Linked DNA regions of Homo sapiens. The main gene of each other region encodes a partner of the protein of the gene in region 3 in a complex. Each region holds a gene or a part of one and is shown on either strand. Other genes may lie near its edges.

Region 1 (3,653 bases), on a different chromosome or scaffold from region 3:
GGAGATCGAGATCATCCTGGCTAACATGGTGAAACCCCGTCTCTACTAAAAAATACAAAAAATTAGCTGGGCATGGTGGCGGGCACCTGTAGTCCCAGCTACTCGGGAGGCTGAGGCAGGAGAATGGGGTGAACCTGGGAAGCAGAGCTCTCAGTGAGCCGAGATCACGCCACTGCACTCCAGCCTGGGCAACAGAGCGAGACTCCGTCTCAAAAAAAAAAAAAGAAATAAAGAATTACAGTCGGTAAAAAGATTACAAGCTTATTATAATGCCTATAAAGTAAAAATCTCCCTTCCTAACCCCCTGCACTGTGGGTATGTAGGAATATTATTCCAGATCACTTTATATGCATTCAGAAGGATATATACAGATTTCTTTTGACATAAATTGGGTCATATTTTATTCACGTCTATAACTTGTAGTCCTCGTTTAGCAGTTTATATTGGACATATTTCCATTTCAACATACAAAACATTCTAAGAACTGAGGCTGGGCGTGATGGCTCATGCCTATTTATAATCCCAGCACTTTGGGAGGCCGAGGAGGGCGGATCATCTGAGGTCAGGAATTCAAGACCAGCCTGGCCAACATGGTGAAACTCCATCTCTACAAAAACACAAAAATTAGCTGGGCAGGATGGCGTACGCCTGTAATCCTAGCTACTCAGAAGGCTGAGGCAGGAGAATCGCTTAAACCTGGGAGGCAGAGATTGCAGTCAGCCAAGATCGCACCACTGCACTCCAACCTGGGGACAGAGCAAGACTCCATCTCAAAAAAAATTAAAAAAAAATAAAAATAAATTAGCGAGGCAAGGTGGCGCACGCCTGTAATCCCAGCTACTTGGAAGGCTGGGGCATGAGAATCGCTTGAACCCGGGAGGCAGCATTTGCAGTGAGGTGAGATTGTTCCACTGTACCCCAGCCTGAGTGACAGGGCAAGACTCCATCTCACAAAAAGCCAAAATAACAAAATAACATTCTAAGAACTGGAAAGTATTCCACTATATGGAAATGTCAAAATTTATTACCGCCTGTTGACGGACATTACTTTGGTTCAATTTTTTCCCATTACAAACCCAATTATGCAAACCCTCACCAACACAAGTTGCTATAAGTCTTTCAAATTTTTGTCAATTTGATGGGGAAAAAATTTGCTTTTCCTTAATTACCTGTGAGATTGAATATCTTATCTTTTTTTTTTGACACAGAGTCTCGCTCTGTCACCCAGGCTGGAGTGTAGTGGCACAATCTCGGCTCACTGCAACCTCCGCCTCCTAGGTTCACGCCATTCTCCTGCCTCAGCCTCCCGAGTAGCTGGGATTACAGGCGCTCGCCACCACACCTGGCTAATTTTTTGTATTTTTTTTTTAGTAGAGACGGGGTTTCACCATGTTAACCACGATGGCCTTGATCTTCTGACCTCGTGATCCACCCGCCTCGGCCTCCCAAAGTGCTGGGATTACAGGCATGAGCCACCGCGCCCTGCCTGAATATCTTTTCATTAACATGGGAAAACTATTTCTTCCGTGAATTACCTGTTCACATTATTGACATTCTCAATTAGGTTGAGTTTTTCTTTTATTTTCTACTGGTTTGCCAGTCATTCAAGTTTGTTGTTTATGGTTTCTTTAGTCACACAAACTTTTTTCACTTTTATGTTTTGAATTTGTTCACCCTCCTGGGATACATAATTTACCTAAGAAAGGGTTTTTTCTATGCCAAGATTGTAAAAAAATAGTGTCTTATTTTCTTCTACTTTTAGAGTTCTAATCTACTTGGAATTGATCTTTTTTATGCAGTGTAAGGCACAAATCTGTCTTTATTACTTTCCCCAACTGAATAGCCAGTTGCCTTGATAATATATAATGAACAATCTATCCACTTCTCACTTCATCTAAATTTCCGTTCTCCCCTTTTTATAAAATTTTGCAGAGGATGAAAAGTTAAAGGGTTTACAAATATTGTCAATTGCCAGTGCAGTGGCTCATGCCTGTAATTTCACCACTTTGAGAGGCCAAGGTGGGATGATCACTTGAGGCCAGGAGTTCGAGACCTGCCTGGTCAACAAAGCAAGATCCTGTCTCTACAAAAATAAAAATAAAAAAAAAATTAGTTGGCCGGGTGCGGTAGCTCATGCCTGTAACCCCAGCACTTTGGGAGGCCAAGGTGGGCGGGTCACAATGTCAGGAGTTGGAGACCAGCTTGGCCAATATGGTGAAATCCCATCTCTACTAAAAATACAAAAAATTAGCCAGGTGTGGTGGTGCAGGTCTGTAATCCCAGCTACTCAGGAGGCTGAGGCAGCAGAATCGCTTGAACCTGGGAGGCAGAGGTTGCAGTGAGCCAAGATCATGCCATTGCACTGCAGCCTGGGTGACAGAGCAAGACTCCATCTCGAAAAAAATACAAATAAAAAAATTAGCTGGGCCTGTTGGCTCATGCCTGTAGTCTCAGCTCCTCGGAGTCTGAGGTGGGAGGATCGCTAGAGCCCAGGACTTTGAGGCTGCAATGAGCCATGACTGTGTCACTGCCCTGGAGCCTGTGTGGCAGAGCAAGACTCCGTCTTTTTTTAAAATTCTATTTTTTTTTGAGACGGAGTCTCGCTCTGTCACCCAGGCTGGAGTGCAGTGGCATGATCTTGGCTCAATGCAACCTCCACCTCTTGGGTTCAAGCAATTCTCCTGCCTCAGCCTCCCAAGTAGCTGGGACTACAGGCGCCTGCCACCACACCTGGCTGATTTTTGTATTTTTAGTAGAGACAGGGTTTCACCCGTTGGGCTGGTCTCGAACTTCTGACCTCAGGTGATCTGCCCACCTTGGCCTCCCAAAGTGCTGGGATTACAGGCGTAAGCCACCAGGCCTGGCCCTTTTTTTTAAAGACAGTCTTCGCCAGGTGTGGTGGCTCATCCCTGTAATCCCAGCACTTTGGGAGGGCGAGGCAGGCGGATCACCTGAGGTCAGAAGTTCGAGACCAGCCTGGCCAACATGGCGAAACCCCGTCTCTGCTAAAAATACAAAAAAATTAGCCAGACTTGGTGGCACTTGACTGTAATCCCAGCTACTGGGGAGGCTGAGGCAGGAGAATTGCTTGAGCCTGGGAGGCAGAGGTTGCAGTGAGCCAAGACTGCACCACTAAACTCCAGCCTGGACAATAGAGTGAGACTTTGTCAAAAAAACAAACGAAAAAAAATTGATCACACCATCTCAAAGTAAGTTGTAGGCATTACGACACTTCAGCATGCATTTTCTAATGACATTCTCCTATATAACCATAATCTCACAATCACATCTAAGAAAATGAACCCCACACTATCATACAATACACAGTTCATATAAAAACTTTTAGTCTATAATATATACTTTGAATTAACAGATCCTATCATCACACTAAATGGTACACATAAGATAACCTATTATCCTCCCGCACTAGACTATTCTTGAGGGTAGGGATCGTAAGCTCTATATCTAATCCTAGACTGTAATAGGCACTGAATAATGTTGGCTGAAATGTTTTAATGAATAAAGGGAAACCAACCTTAAAATGCCTTTTTTTAATTTCTTTTTTTTTAGTGGTATAGACAGCCATCACAAAAAAGAAATTACTTGGTCTGGGATATAACAAGCCTCAAACTTTAAGAAGACTCATGAGTTGA
Region 2 (3,653 bases), on a different chromosome or scaffold from region 3:
GGGAGGCTGAGGTGGGAGGATCGCCTGAGCCTGGGAGGTTGAGGCTGCAGTGAGCCATGATCATACCACTGTACTCCAGCCTGGGCAACAGAGCGAGACCGTCTCAAAAAAAAAAAAAAAAAAAAAAAAAACCAAAGAAAAAAGAAAAAAAAATGTTTGCTAAACAACTGAATTTCTACATTCTAAAACTTTGCATCCCATTTCAATAACTCAAGAACTGTACTTGAATGTCTATGTAACTTTCAGGCTTAGCTTTATTTTCCAGATATCTGACTAGTCTCTCAAATGTTGACTTTTAGTCCATGGTCTCATAATAAAATGAAGCATTATAGAACCAGCTCAAGATACCATCCAGTTACAAAATACCAATCAACTCAAATCAGACCAGTCGGCAACCTCTTTGTTTAGGGTGAGTATATAAATTCTCTTAAGAAACCTGAAATGGTCTTCTTTATCCATCAAAAATAAAATCATGAACTATGATTCAGGGAAGATGAAACAGTAACTAGCAAATCTATCCCACAATCTACAGATTCTTAACAACTCCTAGAAACTTTGGCAATTATTAGAGATATATAGCTTAAGCCTTCACTACTACAGAGCCCAGTAGTTGAATATTAAAGCACTTAAAGTATCCAAGCATTTACTCTGTTCTTTTGTCATATAATCTTTTACATCAGTTTACTTTCTTTTAGAAATAATTTTTAGATATAAATTTGAGTTTTCTAAATACCATCTTGTATTTATATGACACTTTATTCTACTTATTCCTTCTCTATGTGCTTCTGCTAGCTACAATTCACTAAAAGAACTGATATGGGGCCGGGTGCGGTGGCTCACACCTGCAATCTAAGCCCTTTGGGTGGCCGAGGCCGGCGGATCACAAGGTCGGGAGATCAAGACCAACCTGGCCAACAGGGTGAAACCCCGTTTCTACTAAAATACGAAAAATTAGCCGGACGTGGTGGCATGCGCCTGTAGTCCCAGCTACTCAGGAGGCTGAGGCAGGGCAATCGCTTCAACCTGGGAGGTGGAGGCTGCAGTGAGCTGAGATCATGCCACCGTACTCCAGCCTAGTGACAGAGCGAGACTCCGTCTCAAAAAAAAAAAAGGAACTGACACGGTATTCACGTGCCTGGCATACTAACATTTCTATTACATTAAAAAAGTCACCAAATTGGGCATTCCTTTTTGAAAATGCTCAGTTAAACCACGTGTTGTTTCAACTACAGTTATGCAGGCTGTAGTTGTTTTACTGGTGTTTTCCAGTAGGTTATACTAATAGAGACTGATTTGACAACTTAATTACCTTTGCATTTTTCCAGTTAGAAATACAAGGAGGAATCTTCCACTCTTGTTGTTCCTTTACAGTCATCTGAGAGAAGAGGGAAAGAAGAGACAAGTTTAGATTTATAGTCTACAAAGTAAATCTAAGTATAATCTTTATCTTCAAAGACAGCTCCATATACACTGACATATGCACAGCCGTAGTAAAAGGCCAGCAGTCCATTTGTTTGCTAGCACTAGTTTACCATATAATTCTAGTAATAACTTTGAACTAGTGTGAAAAATGGAAAATAATCTAGAAATTATTCTTGACAGTTATAAATGTTGGCTAGTATTTTTCCATATTTAAAGTGATGTGACTTTTTTCTTTTTTTTATTGAGACGGGGTTTCGCTTTTGTTGCCCAGGATGGAGTGCAATGGTGCAATCTTGGCTCACCACAACCTCCGCCTCCTGGGTTCAAGTGATTCTCCTGCCTCAGCCTCCCAAGTAGCTGGGATTATAGGCATGCGCCACCATGCCCAGCTAATTTTTTTTAAAGTAAAGACGGGGTTTCTCCATGTTGGTCAGGCCGGTCTTGAACTCCCGACTTCAGGTGATCTGCCCGCCTCGGCCTCCCAAAGTGCTGGGATTACAGGCGTGAGCCACCACGCCCGGCCGATGTGACTTCTTTTGGATGAAAAATTGTTCTTTTGATTAACAAAACATATCTTAAAAAGTCAAATTACCAGGGACCTAATGAACCCATATATTCACTTCCTATAACATCCTTAAACTGAAACAGCAGACCCTGTCCATTCCATTAAAAGTAGGGTTTGCATTACTAATAACAAAACTTACAGCTAACATGTTATATACATTCTCATAAGCATTCTTGAAACTTCATCTTGAAAAATAAAAAAAGAAACTACAAGTCAGTGTGGTGACATGCACCTGTATAGGCATAGGGAGGTTATCTATAAAATTAATAACCATGAGTAGAAAAAAATATTTTGGACTACAGCAAAGAATACCTTTCGGCTAGGAGAATGCATGACAGGCGCAGGAGGAGAAGGTGGTCCCCGGGGAATTTTCTTATTAATCCTGAAGTATAAAAACACAACCAGAGAGTGATATAGTTTCCTCCCTTTTAGTCATCATATCAAGTCTCTCCTCCTTTTTCTTGCATAAAAGTTTCAAACATAGACAAAAACAGAGACTGTATAATGATATACATTTACCACTCCACTTTGACAATGAATAAAACATGGCCAACTTTGAAACTGTTACTCACCCCACCTCCACAACATTATTGTCATTTTGCAGAGTAATATACTTTTTTCCACTTTAAAAAGCAGCTTTAGGTCGGGTGCAGTGGCTCATGCCTGTAATCCCAGCACTTTGGGAGGCCAAGGTGGGCAGATCGCCTGACGTCAGGAGATCGAGACCATCCTGGCTAACATGGTGAAACCCTGTCTCTACTAAAAATACAAAAACTTAGCTGGGCATTGTGGTACACGCCTGTAAACCCAGCTACTCAGGAGGCTGAGACAAGAGAATCGCTTGAACCCAGGAGGCAGAGGTTGCAGTGAGCTGAGATCATGCCACTGCACTCCAGCCTGGGTGACAGAGCGAGACTGTCTCTCAAAAAACAAAAACAAAAACAAAAACAAAAACAAAAAAAGGCAGCTTTATTGAGATAATTGACATTTATTAGCTATACATATTTAAAGCATACGATTTGATTAAATTTTGACACAAATATGCACCTGTGAAATCATCATCACAAGCAAGATAGTGAACATGTCTATCATCCCCAAAAGTTTCTGCTTGCCCCTTGCCTATTCCTCTTGTCCCTCCCATCTCCTCTCTGTCCCTACCTCCTTCCCCAGAGGCAACCACCTATCTACTTTCTGTAACTATAGGTTAGTTTGCATTTCCTGGAGTTTTAGATAAATGGAATCATACTGTATGTACTTGTTTTTGCCTGGCTTCTTTCACTCAGCATATTGTTTTGAGATTCATCCATGTTATTGTGTGTATTAGTAGCCTATTCCTTTTCACTTACTTGAACCTTGGAGGCTCCATTGGATCTTTCTGCATTTCTACCATCCGAATAACCCTCTGTTTAGCTCCAGAGTTGAATGCCACTCCTTGCTGAGATGGTGTGTATCTGAAGAAAGCAGATAAAAACTAAAGGTGTAATTAGTTCAAGCTTTCAGTAGGTATTTTCCTTCTATTACAATCTTAAGCTAGACTACATTTTCAATTCCTTTCGCAAAGTATTAACAGAAAATTAACAAAATATTTAGACAAAGCAGACAGCAAGAGGGATAAAAGAACATAAATTATGAGTTACAGTCAAAATATAAACTTGAGTGGTATTAG
Region 3 (3,653 bases):
CTTGGGCTCCAGGAATCCTCCTGCCTCAGCCTCCCAAATAGCTGGGATTATAAGCACATGCCACCAGGCCCAGCTTTCTAATGCTTTATTTAAAATGTATACAATGCTATGTATCAATTGATGGAGCACCCTAAGATTTTAGAGGTCAGAAATGTAAAACAATGAATGTTTACCAGACTACCTAACAATGTAATTACTTTTGTATAGCCAGATTTCTATATTATCTATAATATATTCTAAAATAATATAGTCATTAAAATGACGTTTATGACATCAGATGTTGGCTGAGCAATGTTAAGAGAAAAAAGGAGCAAATAAGATTGTACACACAGTTCTGGCCAGGTGCGGTGGCTCACACTTGTAATCCCAGCATTTTGGGAGGCCAAGGCGGGCGGATCACAAGGTCAGGAGATCGAGACCATCCTGGCTAACACGGTGAAACCCCATCTCTATTAAAAATACAAAAAAATTAGCCGGGCATGGTGGCGGGCACCTGTAATCCCAGCTACTCAGGAGGCTGAGGCAGGAGAATGGTGTGAACCCCGGAGACGGAGCTTGCAGTGAGCCGAGATCGCACCACTGCACTCCAGACTGGGCGACAGAGCAAGACTCCGTCTCAAAAAAATAAAATAAAATAAATAAATAAATAAAAAAGATTGTACACATAGTTCTAACAAATATGCAACAACTAAACAGTTCTGAGTAGAAAAAAAGGCATTAGAAAAATGTATAAAATTAACAGTGATTGGCCAGGCACGGTGGCTCATGCCTGTAATCCCAGCACTTTGGGAGGCTGAGGTGGGCGGATCACCTGCGGTTGGGAGTTCAAGACCAGCCTGACCAACATGGAGAAACCCAGTCTCTACAAAAAATACAAAATTAGCCAGGCACGGTGATGCATCCCTGTAATCCCAGCTATTCTGGAGGCTGAGGCAAGAGAAACACGTGAACCTGGGAGGCGGAGGTTGCAGTGAGCCGAGATCGTGCCATTGCACTCCAGCCTGGGCAACAAGAGTGAAATTCCGTCTCAAAAAAAAAAAATTAACACTGATTATCTTTGGAGTGGTAGAAATATAGACTATTTTTTCATCTTTCTGCTTTTTTTGGTTTCTCAAAAGAAATGATTTTTATAATAGAAATAGCTGATTTCAGGCCAGGCATGGTGGTTAATTATTGTAATCACAGCATTTTTGGGAGGCTGAGGCAGGTGGACTGCTTGAGCTCAGGAGCAATATAGCAAGACCATGTCTCCACAAATGATTTTTAAAAATTAGCTGGGCATGGAGGCGTGGGCTTGTGGCCCCAGCTATTTGGGAGGCTGAAGTGGGAGGATCCCTCGAGCAAGAGGTTGAGGCTGCAGTGAGCCATGTTTGTGTCACTGCACTCCAGCCTACATATAAAAATCACATTTATTTTATGTCTTAAAAAAAGAAAAATTTGTCTGGGTTGTTGAAATGACCGATGTAACATCTTTATATTTGCATACACAGACTATAAACACCTCACTTGGGGTGACAGTGATAAATCGGATACTAAAGTAGCTACCCAAAATTAGTAGTTTTTGATAGCAGGGTCTCCTGAGAAAGGATGAAAGGTGAAAGGACGCCAAGAATTAGTATGAGAAGCTGTCCTTCCATTATGCAGAATACTCACCTGCCATCTGTGTTGTAATGCAATTCCATCACTGCTCCACTGTGTCCCTTCAGTGTGGCATAGTTATCACAGTCACCATAGACATTCCACAGTACTGTTAGGGAGATGGGTTCTGTGAGCATTACTAGGCAAAGGGTACTTATAAATTTATCAGAACAACAGTTCTCAGGTCAGGCACGGTGGCTCACACCTGTAATCCCAGCACTTTGGGAGGCCGAGACGGGTGGATCACTTGAGGTCAGGAGTTCGAGACCAGCGTGGCTGATACGGCGAAACCCCATCTTTAATAAAAATAAAAAAATCAGCCAGGTGTAGTGGCAGACGCCTACAATCCCAGCTCTTGGGAGACTGAGGCAGGAGAATCACTTGAACCCAGGAGACGGAGGATGCAGTGAGCCGAGATCGCGCCACGGCACTCCAACCTGGGTGACAGAGTGAGACTCCGTCTCTAAAAAGCCAACCGACCAACCAAACAAAAAAAACTATGTAGTTTGTCTGATGAAATTAAGCCTATCAATAATTCATATATGTTCTGCAAAGATCCCTAAGCAATCCAGACGTTTGGCCACTAGTAAGCTTAAGGATCATAGAGCCGGAACATCCAAATCAAAATGGGCAGTGAAGACGGGTATCATCCACCCGGCACCGAGGAAAAGAGTTAACAGAAAAGAGCCAAATAACTCATTTCATCTCATAATCTGGCAAGAAAGTAGCAACAGAAGCATCTGATTTTTTTTCCTTCTGGCTTCATTTGCTGGAGTATAAATAAAACGACTTTTTCTACTTACTTCTCAAAAATGGGTATGAGAAATTCTTATTTCTCAAAAATGGAAATCTGGTAGTAGATCCTAATGATGTACAGGTAGATTATTTAAGGGAGTTACCACTTTAGGATTCCTTCCTTCCCATATGCTAGCTAGGATTCTGGGTGTGAATTAAGAGGACCTTATACCTTTGGGAAAATAAAAGTTATTTCTCTCCTCATTACTGCCATTAACCTGTTATGTCTAGATTGCTAAGTGCCTTGGTAAATTAGCTGGAGATTTGCCTCTATGAGGAAGACATTCTCAAACCAGAACAACTCACTTTCCAACTAGTAAAATAATGGCTTCTGTATTTACCCCATGGACTCCAAGTTCTACACCCAAGATCATTCAGCATGTTCATGCCCCAATTTTAGCATATTAGCCATGCAGCCTGTTATGTTGCCAACATAGAGTGATACCTTCTGTGGCACCCAAGATTTAAAAAAAAAAATCACTATCTGGCAGGAAAAATTATTCCAGATTCAAAAACTATGCCTCACATATCAGTCGGTCAAATCCTGCAGATGCTAAGGTGGATCCGTTGGGGTGGAACTTGCAGCAGTAGACTTCCCCTTCATGTCCAGAGAGCAGCATGATTGGGGCTTGAAGGGAGGAACATCTTGGAGGTCCCTAAACAAAAGAGAAGCACAAGGTAACTACTGCATACAGACAAAGGAGGCTACAAAATTAGGGGGTGGGGAGTGGAGGGAAAAGACCAAGAAAACAATGATTAAGTGGGTTTCATCTGACTTACAGAATGGTAGCTCTTCTCATATGAATGCCTCCAACTTGACACTCTCTGAAACTTTCCATTATCTACCTGTTATAATGACTCTCTTGTTCACTCTCTCAGCTCTTGTTGTACGACCAACTTTTTTTTGGAGATAGGGTCTCACTCTGTCACCTAGGCTGGACTGCAGTAGTGTGATCATGGTTCACTGCAGCTTCAAACTCCTTGGCTCAAGTGATCCTCCTGCCTCAGCCTCCTGAGTAGCCAGGACTACAGGCATGAACTAGCATGCCATGCTAATTTTTTTAGTTTTTGTGGAGATGAGGTCTTGCTACGTTGCCTAGGCTGGTCTCAAAATCCTGGCCTCCCTCCTTGGCCTCCCAAAGCACTAAGATTATAGGAATGAGCCACCACATTTGGCCTGGCTCATTTAACAAATGATGGAACTGACTTTCCCAACAACT

The links.
Region 1: SNRNP40 (region 3) and SNRPD1 share a complex: the UniProt entries of both Homo sapiens proteins name them as parts of the U4/U6-U5 tri-snRNP complex.
Region 2: SNRNP40 (region 3) and SNW1 share a complex: the UniProt entries of both Homo sapiens proteins name them as parts of the minor spliceosome.

What each region holds. Positions count from the first base shown.
Region 1 is NC_000018.10:21,618,716-21,622,368, reverse strand, and holds part of SNRPD1 (small nuclear ribonucleoprotein Sm D1), read right to left. Parts: intron 1-3,653. UniProt on the Homo sapiens protein: Plays a role in pre-mRNA splicing as a core component of the spliceosomal U1, U2, U4 and U5 small nuclear ribonucleoproteins (snRNPs), the building blocks of the spliceosome.
Region 2 is NC_000014.9:77,733,638-77,737,290, forward strand, and holds part of SNW1 (SNW domain-containing protein 1), read right to left. Parts: intron 3,439-3,653; coding exon 3,334-3,438; intron 2,370-3,333; coding exon 2,300-2,369; intron 1,376-2,299; coding exon 1,310-1,375; intron 1-1,309. UniProt on the Homo sapiens protein: Involved in pre-mRNA splicing as component of the spliceosome. As a component of the minor spliceosome, involved in the splicing of U12-type introns in pre-mRNAs.
Region 3 is NC_000001.11:31,290,260-31,293,912, forward strand, and holds part of SNRNP40 (U5 small nuclear ribonucleoprotein 40 kDa protein), read right to left. Parts: intron 3,090-3,653; coding exon 2,960-3,089; intron 1,748-2,959; coding exon 1,654-1,747; intron 1-1,653. UniProt on the Homo sapiens protein: Required for pre-mRNA splicing as component of the activated spliceosome. Component of the U5 small nuclear ribonucleoprotein (snRNP) complex and the U4/U6-U5 tri-snRNP complex, building blocks of the spliceosome.